Linked DNA regions of Homo sapiens. The protein of the gene in region 7 purifies or fractionates together with the protein of the main gene of each other region. This does not show direct contact. Each region holds a gene or a part of one and is shown on either strand. Other genes may lie near its edges. The genes, in order: XPNPEP1, SUPT6H, URM1, BRAP, THUMPD3, MYO1E and RNF20.

Region 1 (3,500 bases), on a different chromosome or scaffold from region 7:
ACCAGATATGAAGGTCACAGGGCCTGAGTGGAAGTTGGTGCAGCCTCCTGTCTGCCCTTTAGTACTGGGCCAGTGCTTCCTTTCGGGATTCTTAGGATTTATTTTACTGGGACCCTGACTTCAGCTATGTACTACTTTGCTTGAGGCCTGGTGGGTGGAGCATTGGACTGGGCATTGACAAGACCTGGGCTGCCTTGCTTTTGGGTAGATTAGACATGTACTCATCTCCCTAGGCCTCAGTTTCCTCATCTGTCATGCCTGCCTGTCTGCTTGCAGTCTGGTTAGAGTCTCATCTTTGTAATTCTGAAACCTTAGGGTCGCAGAGCTGGCAAGGGAACGTCCATGTCTGATACGGCCTCTGTGTGCTGTAGGTGTCTATCCCCGCTCACCAGCATCCTGAATGGATGATCGCCTAGCTTCAGACTGAGCTCTGATGGTTTCTCAGGAGCTCTGATTGTTAGAAAGTTCTTCCTTGTGCTGTGCTGAAATCTGAACCCTCCAGTAACTTACCTATTGGTTTCTGTTTCACGTTCTGGAGCCACACATAATAAATTTAATCTCTAAAGCGCTGTACAAATACAATTAAGTGGCTCTTTATGTCTTTCAGGTCACCTTCTTGACTCCTTTGCCCGTTCAGCTTTATGGGATTCAGGCCTAGATTACTTGCACGGGACTGGACATGGTGTTGGGTCTTTTTTGAATGTCCATGAGGGTCCTTGCGGCATCAGTTACAAAACATTCTCTGATGAGCCCTTGGAGGCAGGCATGATTGTCACTGATGGTAAGTGTCCCTCACATAGAGGGCATGCGTGGATCCTTGAGCCTTTTTGAAAGCTATTCGTTGTTTTGTATTTTTTAATTAGTTTAAAGTAAATTGGCAATACTTTTCCCTTCCAACAAACTTTTCTGATTATAGAACTGATACATGTTCATTTTAGAAAAAATGAGATGGGAACTGTGTAAAAAGAAAATGAAAATCATTTGCAATCTAACCACTCAGGGGAAACATGACTTAGTGTTTTACTGTATTAGCTTTTGGTCTTTCAGGTATGTAGATAGCATTTTTTTTTTAAATCATTGAGATCTTACTGGGCATCTTGTCTTATGTTCTGCTTTCTTACTTGATACATTGCCTTTTCTCAGGTCATTGCCAAGTCTTTGTAAATATATTTTAATGCCTTCATTATTGTGTCTTACGGATGTGAACCATGATTTATTTAGTGGATCCACTGTTACTTTACTCCTTACCCTGTAGCCAGTGTGCAGGGACTTCAGAGTCTAGCTTTCTGCACCTCAAGTGCCTATAAAAAAGTGGCCATATGAGAGAAGGTGGCATCTCTAGGCTCTTACACCAGATAGAGTGGGCTCTTCACCCGTTTCTTCTCCTTTGGAGTAGGGCAGTCATCCAAGGAGTGAAAGTTTCTCTCTGTAGACATCTTCATCGTGGGCTGCTTCTCATTTTTGGGATTTGGTTTGTTTTAGAGCCCGGGTACTATGAAGATGGGGCTTTTGGAATTCGCATTGAGAATGTTGTCCTTGTGGTTCCTGTGAAGACCAAGGTGAGGATTTATTAAAAAAATTTTCCTGTTTCTATTAGCAATAATCACGCCTCGGATAGACCTCATTGGCTACAATACTGCCACTGCGCAAAGCTTAAAAATTTTCCTGTTTCTTAGTGTGGGAAGATGAAGACTTAATGTCTTTGGAGCCAAGAGTATGCCATTCTGGGGCCAACATGGAGCCTTCTTCTCCAGATATCAGGGACTTTCCTGGAAACCACACTCCTTCCCTGCAAAGCCAGAAAGAAAATCCTTAATGAACTGGGATCTAGAACTGGGATTCACAGACCCTCAGGCTGATGCTTGCTTCACATGATTTGGGGCTCTGAGTTTACTATAGGCGGCCTGTTGTCTCTTCTGCTAGGGGTGCCTATTCAAGGCGCTAATTTCCAGGGCCCCTCCCAGACCCTAGAATTTCCAGGGTGGGGGGCCTGGAAGCTGTAATTTTGTCACACTCCCCAGGTGACTTTTATTAGGTAAAGTTGAGGAACCCTGAGTTATCCATGGGTCAGCCTCAAAGGCAATACAAGACAGGTGTTTCACCCTCTTCCCCCATCAGTGTTACCAAGGTTGCAGGGTTTTAGGCTCTAGGCTTTACCTAAAAGACCTGTTTGTGCCTCCTCCATTGGTGGAATTGAACAATTGGAGGGAAGTAGCTTCCTGTGTCTACAAGGAGGTTAACTGCGGGGATCTGCTCTCTGCTTTGGCATGGAAGTCACTATTCTTGGAAGTGACCTCCCATCTTATTCCCAAAAGCTGCCATGAACAGAAACCCGACATGTTCTTGTGTGCTCCAGTGGATAGATGTGTTGTCGCCTGATGGGCCTGGCTGGGTCAAGGCAGACCACACAGTTGACTGTTATAAAAATGATTTTGAGGACTTACACCCCTGCATCCTGGAGAACCAAAACCAGAGATGCCCCTAAGCCCAGATACCCCCATATCCTGCCCCTGTTTCCTATCACAGTAGACATTAGCCTTGGGACCTGTTGCTGGGAGCCCCTCAGCACCCTTTGTTTGGCCTTTCCTGATGGCACAGGCCATTGTTTGCCCAGTGGAGGAGCTCTTGGAAAATGGCATCAGGTTCCTTGTGTGTCTGTGAAAAGTGGTGACCAGCTCACCACTTCTTGGCTCCCAGTTACCCCTGGCTCTGAGGGATGGCATGCTGGTGGAATGACCTCATGGTGCTTCAGCATAGTAAAGAGGAGTAAAAGCATCTGTTTTCTTCTTTCTCCCGCAGTATAATTTTAATAACCGGGGAAGCCTGACCTTTGAACCTCTAACATTGGTTCCAATTCAGACCAAAATGATAGATGTGGATTCTCTTACAGACAAAGAGGTAATGGGGAAGTCTTGGTGGGCAGGCATGTTACTAGGGGAGGTGGAGACTACCTTAAATAGTTCTAATCCATCCTCTAAATCCTAAATTCTCTAATCCAGTCTCACTTTGTAATTTTTAAATTTAGAGGTCTAGGCCAGTTGAGTCTGAAAGCCCTAGGTTTTCTGAGGACTCCTGAGCTTTTCCTGTATTTGTTGGGCCTCCAGGTGGAGATAGTCCTGTTTCCCGCAGCCATTCTGGGGCTGTAGGGTTTGTGGGTGGAACTCGTATGCCATTGTTTGGCTGTACTATTCCTCCATAGCTGCAGTGAGGCGTGTTTAGCAAATATGAGCCTATGTGTGTCCCTACAAAAAGCCAGATGGATGGTGGGGCCTCTTGGCCACTGTACATACCAGATTGTTTTCTTGTGTTACATGAAACATTAAGGAAATGGAAAGCAAAATCTATTATCGTATGTCCTGTTTTCACACAGACAAGGAGAAAGATAGTACCAGCCCTTCTCGGTTACTACTGTGGTCACTCTGGGGCAGTGAAACCCTTCACAAAGCCTGGGGCACAACAGTGCTTACTTGCCCAGCTCAGAGGGTTATGGGTCTTAACTC
Region 2 (3,500 bases), on a different chromosome or scaffold from region 7:
AGATGGGGTTTCACCATGCTGGCCAAGCTGATCTTGAACTCCTGACCTCAAGTGATCTGCCCGCCTCGGCCTCCCAAATTGCTGGGATTACAGGCATGAGCCACTGTGCCTGGTTGACAAGTTGGATTTCTAAGGGATGGGGCCCTGTGCTACACATTCTCCAAGGTTTAACAGTGCTCCTGCAGGGCCAGCCTTGGGGTCTGAGGGCTTCCCATAATGGAATAAACACCGCATGTTTTACCTCTCCATGTCAGTGGTGTCCAGAGCCCGGATGCCATCAGCAAGAGGTTTGTCAGGGTCAGCAGAGATCTGTTCATACTGATAAGCCTGCATCTTCTCAAACAGCCGTGTTAGGTTCTCTTTACGGATCCGCAGCTGGGTCCACTAAGGTGAAGTAGGGCAGGAATGAGAGCTTGTGTTCAGCCCTGGAGACTCAAGGCTGCTCTGATCCTTACCAGAAACCTAGTGGGGGAGGACTAGACAGGCCTGGGGGGTTTGGGTTTGTGGTATCCTGGTAGTAATGGTGCCTTCCCTGGCCCACACCTCTTGGGGGCCACGGATCTACATTACCTTTTCATCCCACTGCCAGACTCTCCATAGGTCATTGATGTGCAACTCAGGCTCCACATACTCCTTTCGATAGAAGGCAATAAAAGGCACCTAGGATGGCAAAGAGACTGCAGTCACTCAGAGAAGACAGATTTGCTAAGATCCCCTCTGTCAGTAGATAATGACTTCCTGGAGAAACAGCTCCAGGAAATTCAACAGTCAGAAGCCTGGCCTCCCTCACAGCCCTTCCAGGGCCTGGTGCTTTCCTCAATAGGAGAAAATAAAGCTGCAGACAGGGTAGCATTGTTCTTACGATCACTAGGGTCTCTGCTGGTCCTAACACTTGTTGAGTCATGGATAGGGGATACGGGAAGGGGGCTCCCACCTCATTTAGGTAATTATCTTTTCCCTCATCCCCTAACTAAATTTCTCACCAATGGGCCACCAGAGCTTGAGGTGTTACCTCAAAATGCTGATTTCGCATGAAGCCCAGGGCCTCTTTGATCTTCTGAATTGTGCTGGGCCCTTTCCGACTGAAGCTGCTGGCTGGCTGCCCTCGGTCTAGGTAATCACAGCTTTCCTACAGTAGGAAAATAAAGAAATAGCAAGACAATGTTTACTTGGTTTGTCTTACCATACAAGACTGCTTAATAACAAAGGATAACCTTTCTAGATGAAATCTAAAAAATTTTTCTCATATACACACACTTGTTGGGACTACATACACACAGTTTTCTAATACCAGGCACACGGATGTATGAAATAGGGGAGGAAGAGCTCCCCATCTTGATGAAGTGTCTTTTGGTTCATGTCAAAACCTAAGGATCTTTTTTGTGTACCTGGAGAGAAATGGTTGGTGTGGCAAAAGCATTCCTGTAGATCCAGTCAGCTTCTTCTTCTAGTTCATCATCTTCAGCCCCCTTGACTGGGATGGAGCGGAGCTGGAGTGGATAAGACAACAGGGTGAGACGGACTTTATCTTGTGTCTCACTTAAGAAAAACATACCTTTTTGGACAGAAACGTGTGATCATCAAGTGCACATTTCCAGTATTGTTCTACAAATGCCATACCAGTGTTGTTCTGGCATGAAATAAGCATTTTTTTTTTTTGAGATGGTGTCTCACTCTTGTTGCTCAGGCTGGAACACAACGGCGCGATCTAGGGTCACTGCAACCTCCGCCTCCGGAGTTCAAATGATTCTCCTGCCTCAGCCTCCTGAGTAGCTAGGATCATAGGTGCCCGCCACCACGCCCAGCTGATTTTTTTTTTTTTGAGATGGAGTCTCGCTCTGTTGCCCAGGCTGGAGTGCAATGGCGCGATCTCAGCTCACTGTAACCTCCGCCTCCCAGGTTCAAGGAATTCTCCTGCCTCAACCTCCCAAGTAACTGGGATTACAGATGCATGCTGTCAACGCCCAGCTAATTTTTTTTTTTTTTTGTATTTTAGTAGAGACAGGGTTTTACCATGTTGCCCAGGCTGGCCTCTAACTCCTGAGCTCAGGCAATCCACCCACCTTGGCCTCCCAAAGTGCTAGGATTACAGGCGTGAGTCACCGTGCCTGGCCGCCCAGCTAATTTTTTACATTTTTAGTAAAGACGGGGTTTCACAATGTTGGCCAGGCTGGTCTCGAACTCCTGACCTCAGGTGATCCACCCACCTTGGCCTTCCAAAGTGCTGGGATTACAGGTGTGAACCACCGTGCCTGGCCATAAGCATTTCATGGTTTTTTTTTTTTGAGACAGGGTCTGCTTCTAGGCTGCAGTGCAGTGGTGCAATGATGGCTCACTGCAGCCGTGACCTCCCAAGTTCAAGCAATCTTCCCACCTCAGCCTCCTGAGTGGCTGAAACTACAGGTGTGCACCATCACAACCAGCTAGTTTTTTGTATTTTTTGTAGAGACAAGATCTCCCTATGTTGCCCAGGCTGGTCTTGAGTTCCTGGACTCAAGCAATCTGCCACCCTGGCCTCCTAAAGTGCTGGGATTATAGGTGTGAGCCACAGCACCCAGACTGCATTTCACAGATTTCTAAAGAAAACAGTATTTCTAGAACCGTAAGCAAGGTAGAGTCTATCTTCCCTTCTCTAAGAGCTGGATTTCCCAGGCCCCAGGTGAGATGAGGTTCAAACCTGTGCTGGATACTCAATGCCAGACTTTTGCTAGAATATTTCTTGGCTACAAGGTAATTATGGATTGGTAGAAGAGCAGAGGCTGGTGGTTTTTTACCTGGAACCTCTCAGGCAGGTCAGTGGCTCGGATTTCATTGTCCTGATCTGTGAGGTGGCTGCTTTCTAGCTCACTGGGCTCATACATTTCAAAGATGCTCCTACGGCTCACACGCTTCTTGGTGGTCTTCTTGGGGCGCACTCGGATTTCACCCTCAGCCTCATCATCCTCATACTCATACTCTTCCTCCAGTTCTTCATCATACTCATTGTATTTCTCAAATTCATCATAGTCAAAGTCCACACCGAAGATTTCCTGGGCTTCTTGCAGGGCCCTGTAGGTGGCAGCAAGAGGCAGGTGGCTCAGGTTCAGGTGAGAGGAGAGAAATGCAGCCCTTGCATAGATCCTTTACTTGTCCCAAGGGAACTGAGAGGGTTAGGAGGAAGGTAAACAAAATAACCATATTCACTGTGGACGAAAGGCTTCATTGGCGGATATTTCTGGGCAAACTATTGTATATGGAAGATTAAAAAGCTCATCTTTGGCACCTTCGAGTGACAGTAATCAAATAGCAACAGAGCAGACGGGTCTATGTCTTGCTCAGTGGACCCATCTTCTGCTAAGGCATTACAGTATTCCCTCAGGGCAAAAGCTTTCAAATTTGTAAATTGTGATGCGGGCATTTGTCTTCCAACAAAAATATATTAAGAATGTCAATATATATATAATTGAATAAACATGGAGCTGTAGGCGGAAGAGGAATGCTGGAGCCTTGCCCATGTGGGA
Region 3 (3,500 bases), about 27 Mb from region 7:
CCTGGAGTCAGACAGGCCTGGTTTTGAGCTGGACTCCATCACTTACTAGTTCTATTACCTTAGGTAATAGGAAGCCTCGGCTTCCTTTTTTTGTAAAATGGGGATGTTAACATTGTCTCATAGGGTCATTGTGGGGGATCAAATAAGACGATATATACAAAGCTCTCAGCACTGTGCCCTGCATATCAATGCTGTAATTACTCCAGGATCCAGAGGAAGAACCTATACCCCTCGCGCTCTCTGGGTTTCTGCACGCTCTGCCCAGTGGCCTGGCACCTCAGCTTTAGAGGGCAAGGTAGAGCCAACCATTAATCAGATAGTGCTGGGACCGGCTGGGGTTTTCTGTGGCATCCCGTATCTTCCCATCAGAAGCTGGAAAGGGAATGAGGGGACTGCGAGAGTAGTGAGGGGTCCTAGATACTGACCTTCCTTCTGTGTTAGATGTTTGAACCCACAAGATGTTGGGGTTGGCCAATGCTCCCAGTACAACCCAGGTGGTAGGAATGACACTCTGAGTCTGTAGGTGCTGGCGGCCAGGCTGCCCCCGGGCACACAGCACCAGAGGAAGGAGATGGGCACTTAATACAAGGTTTCCAGTGCAGGATACCTTGGCACCTGGCCTGCCCATCGGGGGCAGAGCAGGCAATGAGAGCTGCTGCTCTATGCTGGAGTGGTTGAGTTCTGAGTCTACAGCCAGAGGACCTCGGCTGTGTGCTCGATGGCCTTAGCTAGGAAGTCACTTCATCTTGCTGTCTCAGTGTCATCCTCTGACAAGCAGGGATAATAATCCAAACACCAAGAGCTGCTGAGGATTACGTAAGGCACAATGCCCAAGGCAGGCCTGGCAGTGTCACACACACAGGACACGCTCAACAGATGGCTGCTCTGAGCTGTAAGCCCACAGTGACTTCAGATTCCTCATCCTCTGGGCTCCAGTACCTTCTAAAGGCTGCTGCCAAAGGGAGGATACCCACTGTGGAGAGCACCGACGCAAGCTCCACCAGAATCCCTCGCCCCGGTGGACTTGTCCTATTCTGGGGGACACTGACTGCCCACTGTGGGAGGGCCCCAAAGGGTGTCAGCCTCAGCCTCGTGGGACTGAAACGGAACAACCTCAAAGTCGTATCTGATATTGACTCGCAGGCGTAACAGACCCTCATCCAGCCTCTCTTTGAACACCTCCAGGGACAGGAGGTCAGCTCCTCTGTGGAGCGGCTCTGATTGTTAAGAGCTCTTTTCTCCCAAGCAGAAATCTGTCTTCCTGTCATTCCCACCCACTGGGCCTGAATGGTCCACGGGGACCATGCCAACAAATGCACCCCCTCTTCCCCAGGATGGCCCTTCAGATTTGGAAGAAAGGATCCCCTAAGTCTTCTCTTCCACAGGTTAAACTGCCTCTGTCCCCACCAAGTCCACCAGGCTCCAAGACGGCTCTTCGGAGAGCCCACCCCAGGCCTCAGTTGAAAAGGGAAAAGAAAGAGCTGGCAAGGGGGGAGTAACAGAGGAGAGGGGGTGGAGGGAACATCAGAGGGGCCATTTACAAGTGAATGGGGGTAAGAATGGAGCAGTTTGTGGGCTAAACTGGCCTCAGAAGGAGGTTTACAGATGTGCGAGGGGACCTCCTCATTGTTTAATTAAGCAGAAAGTGGATCTTTTCAAAAGCAATTTTGCACAGGGACTGGGAGGGGTGTGGGGAGGAGGGAGGTGGAGAGGGGATCAGCAAACAGGCCCTGAGAGCAGAGAAAGGAACAGCTGGCCCCAGAGAGGCTGTGAAATGCATGCTAAGCAGTTTAAAGCGCCCAGGAGCTCCTGCAGCTCCTGCCCTCCCTCACCAGCCACCCTTTAACACAAGTGGAGCAGGCAGAGGGGGCACAAAGGCAGGACAGGGGAAGACAGGCAGGGAAAGGTGAGGCGGCCATGTCTACACTTGGGGCCTGGGCAGGGGGCCTTGGGTCAAAGGGATGCTTGAATCACAGAGGCCAACTCCCAGCAGCCGCAATACCCTAAGCTGGTGGGTGCCTGCATGGCCGTTTCAGCGAGATGGCTGTTAAGACATCCCTTCTCTCACACAACTTCTTACTGGGTCAGCACACTCTGCTTCACCGAATTGTATATACTTGGATCTTGAAGAAACTTTTCTTATAGATGTCAAAGAGACAACCAGCTCAATAACATACAGAGCGAGCCCAACCTCCCATCTTACAGATAGGGAAGAAAGAGTCTGGCAGGAATAAGTGATGTGCAACTGCGCGTGCCAGGCTTCCTCTCTCGCAGTCTCACTCCCTCAGGCCTTGCTCATCATTTCTCCCAAATTGGCTGGGTTGGAAGCTCTCCCCTGGCCTAGGAGCCACGAGTTCCCTCATTTGTGAGGCTTGTCACATTCTGAAATCTTACGGCTGCTATTATTTCTGCTGGAACCTCCAAGACTCGCTTGGCCAAGTGGCAGCCCCTAGGCTGGGAAGTCTGCCAGATGACATATCTGGGCATGGACTTGGGGGAAGGGTAAGACTCTCCTAGCAGCACCAGGCCCCTGACCCCCAGCTGGGCTCACATGTGCCAGGGTGAGGCCTGGCAGCTGCTAACCAGCTCTGTTGGTGACCTAGGTCACCAACCTAGGTTACCATGGGTCTGCTGTGTGACCCATGCCTCTGGGCACAACAGGAACCAGGTGTAGGGACTCACAGCAAAGGAGCCAAAGACTAAGTGGGCCATTGTGCCTTCCCTCCCACTCCCCTCCTTTCTTCCCAGAGTGGGGATAGGCCCCTGCCTGTTCCCTGAACAGTGGCTGGAAGATGAAGGATAAAAAAATCTGAGTCCCAGCCCAGCCTCCCTACTTGGGTAACTCTGGGCAGGCCTCAGGTCCCTCCCTCCTTCTCTTTCTCTTTTAGGGGTCTCTTATCTCTTGGGGTCATCTGAAAGTTGAAATAAGTAGTTGTTGAACTCATGAATAAATAAATGAAGGAAAGCGTAAAAACTGGAAAATGTAAGATGTTAGAGTAATTCAGGGAGCCTCTTGGGATAGACGGTGATGGGTTAGTGGCAAAGCGCCAGGACTCTGAAATTCAGTGGCCTGAAAGCTAGTTCTGAATCCCAACCCTGCTATTTAAATAACTCTATGACTTGGGGTGAGACCCCTGACTTCTCTAAATTTTGGTTTCTACCTTTTATTTGTTTTGTTTTTTGTTTTTGAGACGGAGTCTTGCTCTGCGCCCAGGCTGGAGTGCAGTGGCACGATCTCGGCTCACTATACAACCTCCACCTCCAGGGTTCAAGCGATTCTCCTGCCTCAACCTGGGATTACAGGTGCCCACCACCATGCCCAGCTATTTTTGTATTTTTAGTAGAGACAGGGTTTCACCATGTTGGCCTGGCTGGTCTCTAACTCCAGACCTCAGGTGATCCGCCTACCTTGGCCTCCCAAAGTGCTGGGATTACAGGAGTGAGCCACTGCACCTGGCCTTGGTATGTTACCTCCTTAAAGAGACCTCTGCTGACCACCT
Region 4 (3,500 bases), on a different chromosome or scaffold from region 7:
AGCCACCGCACCTGGCTAAACACAAAGGTGTTAATGTACTTATTGAAATGCACATGATATCTCACTGCACCGTGAACATCATGTGGAAGATACCAGTGCTCTATCAGGCATTCATGTCTCAATTTACAAAAAGCCAATAAAAACAATGTTGAAAAAATCCATTAACTGTTTTCTATTATACTCCACACAAAATAATACTAAATACTAGTCATGAGTATTTTTGTTAGATGGGCAACTAGGACAGAAAGTGGGTTATAGCTGAGGCTGACTGAACTGGCACCAGGAAGAAACAATGCTCAAGATATAACTAGTGGCTAGGCGCGGTGGCTCACACCTGTAATCCCAGCACTTTGGGAGACCTAGGCGGGCGGATTACCTAAGGTCGGGAGTTTAAGACCAGCTTGACCAATATGGAGAAACCCTGTCTCTACTAAAAATACAAAATTAGCAGGGCATGGTAGCACATGCCTGTAATCCTAGCTACTTGGGAGGCTGAGGCAGGAGAATCGCTTGAACCCAGGAGGCAGAGGTTGTGGTGAGCTGAGATTGCGCCATTGCACTCCAGCCTGGGCAACAAGAGCGAAACTCCGTCTAAAAAAAAAAGCTATAACTAGTAACAGTTACCCAACTAAGTAAATAAAACCAAGAAAATGGAATAAACAGGAAGAACACTGTGTCACAGATGACACAGCTCTATCTGTGTAAGAGAAAGGAAAGGATCTAGTCCACTTCTTCCTTTAGCATCAAAAGAGAAGACAGAAGACAAACTCAAAGAAAGAACAGAAATGGTAGCCAGAAAGCAGAATGCAGAAAGTAGAAATTGGCTTTGTCTCATCCCTTCGGTCTGTGTGGTGGCTGTGAAAGTGGTTGAATAAGAAAACAGGCCAGGTGCAGTAGCTCACATCTGTAATCCCAGCACTTTGAGAGGCCGAGGCAGGAGGATGGCTTGAAGCCAAGTCTACCCTGGCCAATGTGGCAAAAGCCCTTCTAAAAAAAAAAAAAAACAAAAAACTAAAAACAACAGAATTAGATTTCAGAACTGGTTCTGAAATCTAATTCTCTACACTATGCCCAAATGATCAAAACGATCTTTCTGAAATGTAAATTTGATCTTGAAAAGAAAAAAAAATTACAAGAATAAACTTGTAAACAAACAATTAGCATTCTATGATATACTACCTCATCTGTCTACTAAAAAATAATCAACAGTTTATCGGCCAGGCACAGTGGCTGACGCCCATAATCCCAGCACTCTGGGAGGCTGAGGTGAGTGGATCACCTGAGGTCAGCAGTTCGAGACCAGCTGGGCCAACATGGCAAAACCCCATCTCTACTAAAAATATAAAACTAGCCAGGTGTGGTGGTACATGCCTGTAGTCCCAGCTACTCGGGAGGCTGAGGCACGAGGACTGCTTGAACCCGGGAGGTGGAAGTTGCAGTGAGCCGAGATCACGCTACTGCACTCCAGCCTGGGTGACAGAGTGAGACTCCATCTCAAAAAATAATAATAATAATAATTAACAGTTTATTAAATTCTTCCTGCCTTTCTCTGCAAAAAATTATTTTATCCTATTTTCCTGATGAGATCTTTGGGAGCTCTTCCCAAAGCCTTCTCTGACATCTCTATCAAAAAGACCAACACTGCCTCCTACTGCAGCCCTTCCTGAGTACCCCTGGTTGGGGATGCCATCATTCTCTCTTCCAATCTCCACCCTGAACCACATGTGTTTATGTCCAAGTGTAAACTCTCTTAGACCAAACCACCCCAAAGAGGACCTGAATTTGCTTCCTCTGTCTCAGCATCTCTCACAGTTCTATGCATGTACCAAGGCTCAAAACTCATTAAATGAACTGCATGATTCTGAGGGCAAATGGCATGTCTTACATCCCATATGACAGGTTGAATTCTAGTCCCAGTTCTGGCATTCTCTGGCCATGACACTTTGAGCTTGCAAATTCTTATCTTTGGGCCTGTGTCCTCCTCCTGTATAAAATGAGGTTGTTGGAAAAAATGGTCCCTGAGGAAACTTCCAACTTTAAAATGCTATGGTTCTGTAACAGTTAATTTATATCAAAAGGAATACTGGGGATGGGTATCGTGGCTCATGCCTACAATCCCAGCACTTTGCGAGGCCAAGGCAGGAACACTGCTTCAGCTCAGGAGTTCAAGACCAGCCTAGACAACATAGCGAGACCCCATCTCTACAAAACAAACAAAAAAAACAATTAGCTGGGTGAGATGGTGCACACCTGTAGTCCCAGCTACTTGGGAAGCTGAGGCGAGAGGATCACTTGAGCCCAGGAGTTTGAGGAGGCAGTGAGCTGTGATCATACCACTGCACTCCAACACGGGTGACAGAGCAAGACCCTGTCTCAAAAAAAAAGTAAAACTGGAGTGGCGGGGAACAAAGAATTGCCTAGAACTTAACTGGTATAGCAGATGGACTGAAGATACAGGTAAACACTTTAAGGAATGCACATATCTCAGTATGGCTTTGTTCAAGGCAACTGGACAATTCCTTGGAAAACTCCCAAATGATACCTAAGAATTGACTGAGGACTCCACGGAATTGGAGCAAGACTCCTGTCCAGCTAAATAAGCAGGGCAGTGATAAGCTGCAGAGACCCAGTTTATTTATGTGCTCCTCAGTGTCTACCACTGTGTGCCACGTCCCCCACCAGGTGTGAGAGACACAGCAGTGAGCAAGCCAGGCATGGCCCCCGCTCTGTGAAGCTGATATTCTTCTTCCGGCCACCAGGCCACTTGTGGGTGGACAGAGATTCCTGTAGACTTTCACCCCTCCTCACTTCTGTGCTTGGGAACATGATCTTCCCCTTCCCCCACTGCCTTCTCTGGGTTCTGCTCTTTACCCGGCTTAACTCCTAATTACCCTCCTGGAGATGCCACTTCTCAGGTGGTCCTGGCTTCATTAGGGCCCCAGTTCTCAGTCCCAATGCTGCACACTGCTCTTCTGTAACACTGGTTATGGCTGTGATTTATTTACTTGTGTGATTTCATTTCTGGGTTCCCCTCTGTACTGGGAAATCCAGAAGGCCAGCATCTGATACACCTTTCTGGTTAAGTCCCACAGTGCAGTCTGCAAAGGGAGCAACCATCCTGGATTTAGGGGGTAAAAAAAAGGTACAGGCCTTACCTGTTCTTTGTCTGTAGCAACATCACCTATGACTAAGACCTGGTATGTTGGGAATCAGGAGGCTGTAGAGTAGATCTCATACTTAGTAACTGCTATTTCTACTGGCCACCAAGCCATCAACAGCCCAGCAAAGCTAAAATATTAGGCTGCTGTAGCCCAGTTGATAAGAAGCCCAGAGTGAATGGCAGACACCAAGTGCAGCTGATACATGAGATTCCAGACCTAGATTTCACTGCAGCACGAGAGCCTCAAACTAAGCTTTGCTTTTTTTTTTCACTCTCTGGCTCTTGGAAGGAAAGAACAACTCATGCTGCTTTGGGGAATTCCACAAGGGTTCAGAATCAG
Region 5 (3,500 bases), on a different chromosome or scaffold from region 7:
ATCTCAAATATTTTCAAACCGCATTAACTTAGAATTTAGTGTGCCAGACACTGCTGGATGAGGAACTGAATAAAATACTAGACCTGACCTCAGAGAGCTCCCAGGTTAGTTGAGAGGCATAAAGGGGAAGAAATAATTAACCGTGGGACAAGTGCAGTGGCAGAGGTACGTACATACAAAGTGTTTTTGGGAGGGGCACATAAGACTGCTTGGAGAGTTAAGGTTGATGTTGAAAGGGCATGAGGTTTGAGCTGGGTCTTAAGAGATGGGTAGAGGTTCAGCAAGCAGAGAAAGAATAAGAGGGCATTTTCAGCCAGGGAAATAGCACAGTTGACAACATGCAATGTTTTGCCACTCTAGAAAAGCACTGGATTTTCTTTGTTTGTTGACAATTTAATCATATTTTACAGTTTGCTACTTTTGTTTTAACATACACTCTTATCTTTTAGGGGGCCACTGAATGGTCTGACTGTTTCCATATTGCTGGTGATAATAATCCACTGGCTGTGAATAGAGCAGCAAATAACATTGCATCTTTATTGACCAAGAGCCAAATTAAAGAAGGGTAAAAATTTAAAAGATTTCTTAGCATCTTTTAGAGTTAGAGAATCACTTTTTATATTGACTTTATGAATTAAAACTCCCAGTGCATTGTGACGTCATTGTAACCAAAATGAATATACTATGAGACTCCATTTACATTTTTAAAGTTTATTGAAAATAAGTTATATTTTTAAAATATTATTTTAGCGATAATTTCCCCACCATATGCAATTTTTCATTTGTCTTATTCATATGTCTTTTCCCCTACATATTGGAAGAATATTTTATAGACTCATTTTAATTTCACAAAATTTTAAACAGTATATTTTTACATAGGCTTCTTTTTTGCTTTGGGTACAGGGTCTCATTTTGTCACCCAGGCTGGAGTGCAGTGACATGATCATGGCTCACTGTAGCCTCAACCTACTGAGCTCAAGCAATCCTCCTGCCTTGGCCTCCCTAGTAGCTAGGAATACAGGCATGTGCCACCATGCCCAGCTAATTTTTTAAAATCTTCGTAGAGATGGGGGTCTTGCTGTTTTGTCCAGGCTGGTGTCAAACTCCTGGCCTCAAGAGATTCTGCCGCTTCAGCCTTCCAAATTGCTGGGATTAGAGACGAGTCACCACACCTGGACCATAGTCTTTAAAGTCACTACATAAATTCCATCGTATAGAAATACTGCAGTTTATATAGCCTCGCCTCTATTTTATTACTAAGTCATTGGTTATATATTTCATTGTCTCTCTGATCTAATTTTTTAGGACAGTGCTTCTCAAACATTAATGTACATGTGAATCACCTAGGAGTACTGTTAACACAGATCTGATTTAGTAGTTTGGGATGGGACCTAAGAGTCTGCATTTTCCAGGAAACTCCAGGACAATGCTGATGCTGCTGGTCTATGTATCAACATTAAATCCTTTTACGTGTATTAAGACAAGTAGTTGGAAGGCTTCAATTTTCTTAAATACTGATTTATTGTGATGAATTAATTTTGAATGGTTGTTTCATATTTATTGAGGGTTTTTTTTAATGAGCCTAGTATATGGCCAGTCTTTTTTTTTTTTAATTAAAACTGATAAACATTTAAACAAACGTACCTTTCTAGCTTCTGAATATTTTATCTTGTTTGTACCTACACTGTCTGTTCAACCCGTACTTTTTTTTTTTTTTTTTTTTTTTTTTTTTTTTTTTTTTTTTGAGACGGAGTCTCACTCTGTCGCCCAGGCTGGAGTGCAGTGGCTTGATCTCGGCTCACTGCAAGCTCCGCCTCCCGGGTTCACGCCATTCTCCTGCCTCAGCCTCCCAAGTAGCTGGGACTACAGGCACCCGCCACCATGCCCGGCTTATTTTTTTTTTGTATTTTTAGTAGAGACGGGTTTTCACCATGTTAGCCAGGATGGTCTCAATCTCCTGACCTCATGATCTGCCCACCTTGGCCTCCCAAAGTGCTGGGATTACAGGCATGAGCCACTGTGCCCGGCCTCAACCTGTACATTTCTATCCATTTTACTTTGGTTTTTAATATTTTTTGCCTTTTGTTTTGTGCAGTTATTGGTATGCGGTTATAATACATATTTTATGTGTACTTTTAAAAATTATGTAATGATTGCTTTTATTGCATTTTTTTCTTAAATTCTTCATTAAATGTCAATTAAATCCTTAATTTCTGCTGATAACCTTTGACTTATCTTCAGTTCTTAGCCTGTGCATTATTTTGTTTCTTAAACCAGTTGCTTTGCCTTAATGAGGAGGATTTAAATCCTTTGTATTTATTATTATTCATTCTGTCTTCTGTCATCTATATTTTTTATCTTAACTTTTTTCTTAGTCTTGTTTTATATAGCATGGCACATATTTTCCTTTTGGTTTTTCATCTTGAAACAATTACCTATATATTTGCCAATTTTACTATCTGTTTTTCTTTTAGGCCTCCTGTTATTACTAGTTTTACAAACTTTATTCTTCAGATACATCACCCCATTATCTATTCTTTAGTATTGTTTTTCTCCAGTGTATGTTTTATCAGCAACTTAAATTTTTGTATCATCGGTTATGTAATTTACTGCTTCAGCATTGTTTTTAAAGTTGTCTTTTGCAGTTCTCTGCATTACAATCATGTTTTCAGTTTGTTTCCCTTTTTTCTGAGACGGGGGTCTTGCTCTGTCACCCAGGCTGGAGTAAAGCGGCACAATCCTAGCTCACTGCATCTTTCAACTCCTGGACTCAAGTGATCCTCCCACCTCAGCCTCCTGAGTAGCTGGGACTATAGGTGTGTGCCATCATGCCCTGCTAACTTCTTAAAAAAGTATTTTAGAGACAAGGTCTCACAGTGTTGCTCAGCTGGTCTCAAATTCCTGGAGTCCAGTGATCCTCCCACCTCAGCCCCTGAAAGTGCTGATTATAGGCACAAGCTACCATGCCCAGCCTGACCTATTTTTTACCTTTGTGCCATTTCTTAAATTTTGAATAGGTTGATATTATCACTGATATCCTTAGCAGTTTATGTTTTGCTGTAGCAGTCTCTCTTCAGAAACAAAAATTGTTGTAATAACTTTATGCTTCACAGTATGTTGAAGCACCTTTCCTTTGTCCCCACAGCAAACCCTCCTGGGGCTTGCCCATAGATGCTGTTCAGTGGGATATCTGCAATCTGCCATTGAGAACTGGCTCTGTGGATATTATTGTAACAGATTTGCCATTTGGAAAAAGGTGAGAAATACTAGTACCTGCTTGTCTTCTAAATATGTCATTATTTTCCTTGCGTTTATTCTAAGTCAGGAAAAAAATCTTGAATTTTAGCAGACTTAGCAGAGCTGTTTTTCACTTAACAACATGATGGATTCACCCATTATGTTTCTTCCGAGAACTCAGGAATGTATTAACTACATTTGGAATCCTGACCATCATGGGAGGTTCATTTTTAAATTACCTGTAATTCACTTTCTAGCCCATT
Region 6 (3,500 bases), on a different chromosome or scaffold from region 7:
TTGAACTCCTCAGTTCAAGAAATCCTCCCACCTCAGCCTCCCAAGTAGCTGGGACTATAGTGCATGACACCACACGTGGCTAATTTTTAAAATTTTTTTTGGTAAAGGCCTGAACGACCACACCCGGCAAAAAAATAGGTTTTATTACATAGCTCATAAATGACCATTCAAAAGTGCTTTGAACAACGGCAATGACGTCATTCTCATGGTGGTAACTCAGAAGGGCGGGCCAACTTCATTCACATGTACAGTTTGAGTTCTATGGGTTGTCAAAGTTCATGTCACTATGTTAGGGCTGGCTTTTACAGTTGTACTTCTCTTAAGTGTGGCTGTCCCAAAGATATATGAAAAAAATACTTTGCTAGGATGCCCCAAAACCTTTTGTCTCTGCCAACATAAATTCTGAAACTGAAATTCAAAACACAATTTGTTTACCACTATTACAGAATGTGCTTATAAGGCTGAGATGTTTATTTTAATACCTTTGGCATTTAACCTTTAACCTCTTATTTACTTTGTAAATATTTCAGCATGGTGAGAAAAAGAAAAAAAAAGTTTTTAAAAACTCACCATTAAGAAACATTTTAATCACAGATTGGTAAAAACACAAGTTGCTGCATTTTCGCAAAAAAAAAAAAAAAAAAAAAAAAAGAGATGACTCAAACTTGGAAAACCATGACTGTACATAATTCCTATATATCCTACCATGAAGCTTATAATACCTTGCACTTACACAGAAGATTTAAAATATTTCTGCTTGTTGAAGCAGATAAAAAGAGATTTCTCAAATTCCTAATGAATAATAAGGCCCCACACTTGGCTCATGAGGAAACGCAAGGTACTATATGTTCTTTCACTGAGTCTCACAGGGGCTCATCACATGCCCACACTAGGCACAGAGGCAAAATGTTGTATTCTAAGTTATCAGAATGCACGCCGCTGCTCATTATCTAACCCTCAGGAAAACGCCTGAGACAGACCGCCAATTCATGAGATTCAACTGAAAAAGGAGTGAAAAACAAGAAGTCCATCATGTGACATTGGAGGCCATGGCATTTTCAGTGGAGGAAGGAGTTGAAGGGTTGAAGAGAAAAGCTCAATTTGCAGCCTCACCACTCGTGGAACCATCCTACACAGGTGTTGAGATAGCGCCAAACAGTAGCAGCTGGATGCAGATTTTCCCTGTTATAATAGCTTAGAGAATGCATAGGCTGAAAATACCAGGCTATTCCCTCTCTTTAGGGAGACCCAGTAGGAAGGTGTGGATGTATGGATAAATACTGAATGCCACTACTGGGTATGCAGTGAACGTTTAGACATTCTTCCTGGTGAGTGAATGAGAAGAATCACTGTGGTTCACAGAAGGACACCATGTTAAGACTTACAATAAAGTGGCTGCAAACAGCTAATCTGCAGCTGTGTTTGGCCCCTCTGAGATGATCAAATCACATATAAAAATTGGCAGAGGCCGGGCGTGGTGGCTCACGTCTATAATCCCAGAACTTTGGGAGGCTGAGGCGGGCAGATCACCTGAGGTCAGGAGTTTGAGACCAGCCTGGCCAACATGGTAAAACCCTGTCTCTACTAAAAATACAAAAATTAGGCGGGTGTGGTGGTGGGGCCTGTAATCCCAGCTACTCAGGGGGCTGAGGCAGGAGAATTGCTTGAACCTGGGAGGCAGAGGTTATAGTGAACCGAGATCGCGCCAGTGCACTCCAGCCTGGGCGACAAGAGCAAAACTCTGTCTCAAAATAAATAAAAATAAGAACTGGCAGATATAGCATAAAAATCTAGATTTCTAGTTTCTCTTGAAAAACAAGATAATTTGGTAATATGGTCGATATAACCATGGCCTAGAATCAAGTAGTGGTGCCTCCTAGAATGGCACATATATTCCATATTTACTCTCTAGAGGCCAGCCTCCCTCCACCAAATTATAAGACATTTAAGTTTGCAACCACTGGCCGGGCACAGTGGCTCATGCCTGTAATCACTTTGGGAGGCCGAGGCAGGAGGATCACGAGGTCAGGACTTTGAGACCAGCCTGGCCAACATAGTGGAACCCCGTCTCCACTAAAAAATACAAAATATTAGCTGGGCATTGTGGCAGGCACCTGTAATCCCAGCACTTTGGGAGGCCGAGGCAGGAGGATCACGAGGTCAGGACTTTGAGACCAGCCTGGCCAACATAGTGGAACCCCGTCTCCACTAAAAAATACAAAATATTAGCTGGGCGTTGTGGCAGGCACCTGTAATCCCAGCTGCTTGGGAGGCTGAGGCAGGAGAATCGTTTGAAACCGGGAGGCGGAGGTTGCAGTGAGTTGAGATCGCGCCAGTGCACTCCAGCCCGGGCGACAGTGAGAGACTCCAACTCAAAAAAAAAAAGTTTGCAACCACTGACAAGACTGTAGTCCTCAGCAAAAGTGTGGTGGAGGTGACTTTCAACTTCAGTAAATGTCTGCTTCTTATACTTCTCCATCCCTCTCCATCCACTGCTCCACCCATTTTCTCTCCAAGGAGATGCCTGGGCTGTCAAATATTTCCCACTAGGATGGCCCACTCACACTTGTCCCTAGATAATGTCCCGGACTCTAGGTATTTCCCCAACGCTTTGCCTCCATCAAAACTTTTTTTGTGCTTGATCCCATTCCTTTCTGGTTTTGTTTTGTTGTATTGTGTTGTTTTGACTAGGAGACTACTAGCAATCTGATAAACTAATCTGTGGAAATCAAGTAGGTTACCTTCCCAGGAAACATTTGAAATGTATTCCAGACTTTCTAAATACATGCCATGCCATCACCTAAAGGAACTTACCTACCTTATCATCAGCTATCCATCAGATTTCTAGGTTGTAAATCTATTCCTGGGTATTCTTATGTGTCATATCTATAATTTCCTCACAAGTATATGCAAGTAAGGAAAAGGGAACAGCTCTTGAACATGTTTTGAGGTGATGGTCAATTCAGATTTGCTCAAATATTTCTGTATATTTAATGCACAGAAACCTTGCATAAAAATCAATCACAATTTCTGGATCCAAAGCACATAGCGGACCTACAGCCATGGGTTTCAGTCTATCAGAGAGTCCAAACTGGTCATGGCCACAAAAGCAGAACTTCCTTTGCAGATGATGATAAGCCCAGATTCTACGAAGGAAGCCTTAGATGGGTATTACGGTTAAAGTCAACAGAGATTTTTTTGTACTCTGCTAAACAACCTCCACTAAATTATAAAGATGTGCAGGGTTTTTTTTAACTTCTTCAAGTCTCCTTAGGAAAAAGACACAAGTAACTATTGCCTGGTAGTGTTCCTAGTTTTCTCAAGATAGAAAAGTGTCCCAAAGTGAGTTTTCAGGAGGAAGATAGAAGGTGAACTACAAGCTGTACACTGTGTTCATGAGTCAGAAAATGAAAATGGCTATTTTCCTTATGAGTCACAACTGAATGAGTCTTAGTAGGGCCTCAGGTACAGATGGAGAGCCCTCCTACTATGCTACCAGA
Region 7 (3,500 bases):
AAAACACGTCACTTGATTTTATTTCAGACATGTTTCCATATTAGCAGATCCATATTTGACAAGTACACTGTACTCTTTTGTAGGAATAACAGTAGAGATGTATAATTTATTTACCAATACCCTAATGATGAACATTTAGTTTTCAAATTTTTTTCCAATCACAAAAATGTGCCACAATAATCATTCTTTTACTTATATCATCATGTAGAAAGCACCCTATTTCAACAGAATAGAAAGCTCTACTCATCCTAATTACCTGAGTCTTCAGAGTCAACACCTGGTCTGCCAGCTCCTCCTTCTCTTCTTTAAGCAACTTATGGATCTGATTGGACTTGATACGCTCTGACATGAGCTTGAAATTTGCATCATCCTTCTCCCGCAATTGCTGCATCAAACGGATATTTTGCTCCTGCATGTCTTCAAAGGCCTGGCCTGTGACATCCATTTCAGAGAGGAGTGCTTCTTCTTCCTAAAGGATGAAGGAAGAGATTTGATTTTAGAAGAATCTTCCAACTTCAATGGAAGAGCACAGGAAACTAAATTTTCCCACTGTTCATTTAGATATAAATTAATTTAGTGACAGAGTTTTAAGAAGTTGTGTTTTGTCACTAGGCATACAGAAGCTCTATTATCTGAAGTCACTGGCACCAATTGTTGGTCTGATACTTATTAGTTGATCTGTACTCAACGTCAGTTAAATTAGACAATAATTGTATTTACCTTAATCTAGACAAACGGATCAAGCAGCAATTGGTTAAGAGTACTTCCATCATAACCTCTCACATTTTCTCATGCTTTTCCACAATTAAAATACTGGATCTACAGGATTTCCAGCAGTTGCAAACATCTAAAGCCTTGTAACAATCTGATAGGTGAAGACTGGTATCTAATAATAGCTTTACTTTATATCTATCTCATTTTAAGTGAGACTGAGCATCTTTTCATATGGTTAAGACCACTTGTATTCTTTCCATAACCAACTCATTTCTTTTGCCTATTCTTCCACTGGATTCTTGAGTTTTTTTCCCTATTTTGGAGAGTTTTTTTTGTATCAGATAAGCCTTCTTTGTAATAAAAGTTAAAAATATTTTTTACTTTTTGTCATTTAATCTTTTGGCTTTGCTAACAGTGTTTTTTGCAGTGTAGAAGTTTTGCATCATTTTAAAAAATAACTCAAAATTATCAATTTTTTGTTCATGTTTTCTAGCCTTTTATTCATAGAAAGGTCTCCACTCCAAATTATAAAGGAATTTAATGGTTTTCTTCTAGCTTTTTGATGGATGCATTTTTTAAAATATCATATCTATGATCCATTTGGAAATCATCCTAGTGTATTCAAGTATGTATCTAACTTTTCTCTAACATTATTTTTTTTAATTTTGTCCCATCACATGTCACAGTTTTTCTTTTCCCCACTGATTTAAAACTATGTATTTAGCACATAATAAGTATCATGTGTACTTTCAACTACTTCTCAAGTTTCTATTCAGTTCTAATAGCCTGTCTAGTAGTCCCAAGCTATTTCATCTACAGAAACTTTATGTTTTAATATATGGAAGAGACCCCAGTGCTGTTCTTTTTCAATTTCTCTTGTTACTCTTGTTTACTTCTCCACATGTACTTTAAAACCAGTTCTTCTAGTACCAAAATAAACAAAAGCAAAACTTAAAAAAAGCACTTTTATGAGATCACATTATATTAATACATAAACTTAGAAAGACTGAACATTTTTAAGATAGTCATCGTATACAAGAACATAGTGTCTTTCTTTTTACTTGTTCTAGAACCTATAATAGTATAATTTCCTGATAATTACCTTAAGAGAGAGGGAAGAAAAAAAAAAGTGGCATTTACCAGATTTAAGAAAAGTCAAAATTACACTTTTTTTTTTTTTGAGATGGAGTTTTGCTCTTGTTGCCCAGGCTGGAGTGCAATGGCGCCATCTCGGCTCACTGCAACCTCCACTCCTGGGTTCCAGCAATTCTCCTGCCTCAGCCTCCCAAGTAGCTGGGATTACAGGCATGCGCCACCAAGCCCAGCTAATTTTGTTTTTTTTTTTTTTTAATAGTGATGGGGTTTCTCCATGTTGGTCAGGCTGGTCTTGAACTCCCGACTTCAGGTGATCCATCCACCTCGGCCTCCCAAAGTGCTGGGATTACAGGCATGAGCCACCGCGCCCAGCCCAAAATTACACTTGTTAACAAAAGGAATGTGTATAGGATCTAATGAAGTTCTTCTTTTCAAGGCACTTCATGATCAACTTACCATTAAACCTACTCCATCTCACTGTTATTTTGCTATTTCTTAGAAACAATGAAGGTGTACTAACAGAGAATACATATATGGTTTTTTCAAGCATTTTCAGTATCTTTATTATTGAATTTTAATAAAAATTCCCTGGCATTTAAAAATACATACATATTCATTATAAGGAGGAGAACAATCTCTATAGTTCTATGACCCCAAAATAGCCATAGTTAACATACTGCTTAATCAATGTTATTATATTGGTTAATAGATTATATCCTTATTATATATAAATCACATATTTATAAGCATAGTTTTTCTGTGTAGTATATGTACTACATAGAAATATATAATGATATATATTTATAAGCATAGTTTTCTTAGTTTCATATATTTGTAATCATAATGTATATAAAATCTTATGTCTTATTTTTCATTTTATATTCACTATAACCCTTAATTCCAGGTCAGCAAAGAAAGACTAGATCTTCAATAACTGTCTGAACAACAGCAGAGAAAGACTAGATCTTCAATAAATGTCCATTTAAATAAAAGTAAATTTCTTGCCTCACAAATACACAAAACAAAATAACAGAAAGATAAAAGACTTGAAGGTAAGAATTAAAACACACACACAAAAAGGAAAAATACACATTAACAATCAAAAAAAGACCAAAATAAAAAAGCAAATTTCACTGGCAATAACTTATTGTCAAGTAACATTTACTCAAAAAGTCAATTAAATAAAGAAAGTGAGTCCACCTGCTTGGCCATGGCTAGCTTCTTCTGTAGGTATTCTATCTGCTCCTCCACTGCCCGGATCTTCCTCAAGGCATCCTCATCAGCCATTTTCTTGTTCTCTTTCTTCTCTTTATCTTCCAGATCCTTGAGTCTTTGCCTTAGATCTTCCAACTATAAGAGGAAAGGAATTGCACAAAAATAAAAAGTTATAACACATTTTCAAAAATCAATTAATACTGTGCAAAGATAGAAGGTTCATAATACCAAAAGAGTCTTTACAGAATTATAGAACAAGGTACATAATATACTAAAACATTACATAACACCATCTGTTTTAACATCACTCCATTCTACTATGACATGCTTCTATAAGCAACACTTTTGAGAAGTGCACAGGTAACTTTCTTTAGAATAGTGGTTCCCATCCTTTTTTTTAGGCCTCAAAATTTTAAGAGCATAAGACATTCCTCCCAAAAGTAATGAAAAAGATTATCCCTGTAGCAATGAATTAC

Evidence for each region.
Region 1: the proteins of RNF20 (region 7) and XPNPEP1 fractionate together in Homo sapiens (co-fractionation; one large-scale study listed by BioGRID). This does not show direct contact.
Region 2: the proteins of RNF20 (region 7) and SUPT6H purify together in Homo sapiens (affinity purification with western blotting, with the first as the bait; one study listed by BioGRID). This does not show direct contact.
Region 3: the proteins of RNF20 (region 7) and URM1 purify together in Homo sapiens (co-immunoprecipitation; one study listed by IntAct). This does not show direct contact.
Region 4: the proteins of RNF20 (region 7) and BRAP fractionate together in Homo sapiens (co-fractionation; one large-scale study listed by BioGRID). This does not show direct contact.
Region 5: the proteins of RNF20 (region 7) and THUMPD3 fractionate together in Homo sapiens (co-fractionation; one large-scale study listed by BioGRID). This does not show direct contact.
Region 6: the proteins of RNF20 (region 7) and MYO1E fractionate together in Homo sapiens (co-fractionation; one large-scale study listed by BioGRID). This does not show direct contact.

Annotation. Positions count from the first base shown.
Region 1 is NC_000010.11:109,868,012-109,871,511, reverse strand, and holds part of XPNPEP1 (xaa-Pro aminopeptidase 1), read left to right. Parts: intron 1-607; coding exon 608-781; intron 782-1,482; coding exon 1,483-1,559; intron 1,560-2,799; coding exon 2,800-2,898; intron 2,899-3,500. UniProt on the Homo sapiens protein: Metalloaminopeptidase that catalyzes the removal of a penultimate prolyl residue from the N-termini of peptides, such as Arg-Pro-Pro. Contributes to the degradation of bradykinin.
Region 2 is NC_000017.11:28,675,705-28,679,204, reverse strand, and holds part of SUPT6H (transcription elongation factor SPT6), read right to left. Parts: intron 3,049-3,500; coding exon 2,775-3,048; intron 1,491-2,774; coding exon 1,389-1,490; intron 1,130-1,388; coding exon 1,013-1,129; intron 661-1,012; coding exon 571-660; intron 385-570; coding exon 242-384; intron 1-241.
Region 3 is NC_000009.12:128,381,374-128,384,873, reverse strand, and holds part of URM1 (ubiquitin-related modifier 1), read right to left. Parts: intron 1-3,500. UniProt on the Homo sapiens protein: Acts as a sulfur carrier required for 2-thiolation of mcm(5)S(2)U at tRNA wobble positions of cytosolic tRNA(Lys), tRNA(Glu) and tRNA(Gln). Serves as sulfur donor in tRNA 2-thiolation reaction by being thiocarboxylated (-COSH) at its C-terminus by MOCS3.
Region 4 is NC_000012.12:111,661,957-111,665,456, forward strand, and holds part of BRAP (BRCA1-associated protein), read right to left. Parts: intron 1-3,500. UniProt on the Homo sapiens protein: Negatively regulates MAP kinase activation by limiting the formation of Raf/MEK complexes probably by inactivation of the KSR1 scaffold protein.
Region 5 is NC_000003.12:9,380,054-9,383,553, forward strand, and holds part of THUMPD3 (tRNA (guanine(6)-N(2))-methyltransferase THUMP3), read left to right. Parts: intron 1-449; coding exon 450-565; intron 566-3,145; coding exon 3,146-3,256; intron 3,257-3,500. UniProt on the Homo sapiens protein: Catalytic subunit of the THUMPD3-TRM112 methyltransferase complex, that specifically mediates the S-adenosyl-L-methionine-dependent N(2)-methylation of guanosine nucleotide at position 6 (m2G6) in tRNAs.
Region 6 is NC_000015.10:59,366,372-59,369,871, forward strand, and holds part of MYO1E (unconventional myosin-Ie), read right to left. Parts: intron 1-3,500. UniProt on the Homo sapiens protein: Actin-based motor molecule with ATPase activity. Unconventional myosins serve in intracellular movements. Their highly divergent tails bind to membranous compartments, which are then moved relative to actin filaments.
Region 7 is NC_000009.12:101,554,353-101,557,852, reverse strand, and holds part of RNF20 (E3 ubiquitin-protein ligase BRE1A), read right to left. Parts: intron 3,160-3,500; coding exon 3,010-3,159; intron 470-3,009; coding exon 257-469; intron 1-256. UniProt on the Homo sapiens protein: Component of the RNF20/40 E3 ubiquitin-protein ligase complex that mediates monoubiquitination of 'Lys-120' of histone H2B (H2BK120ub1).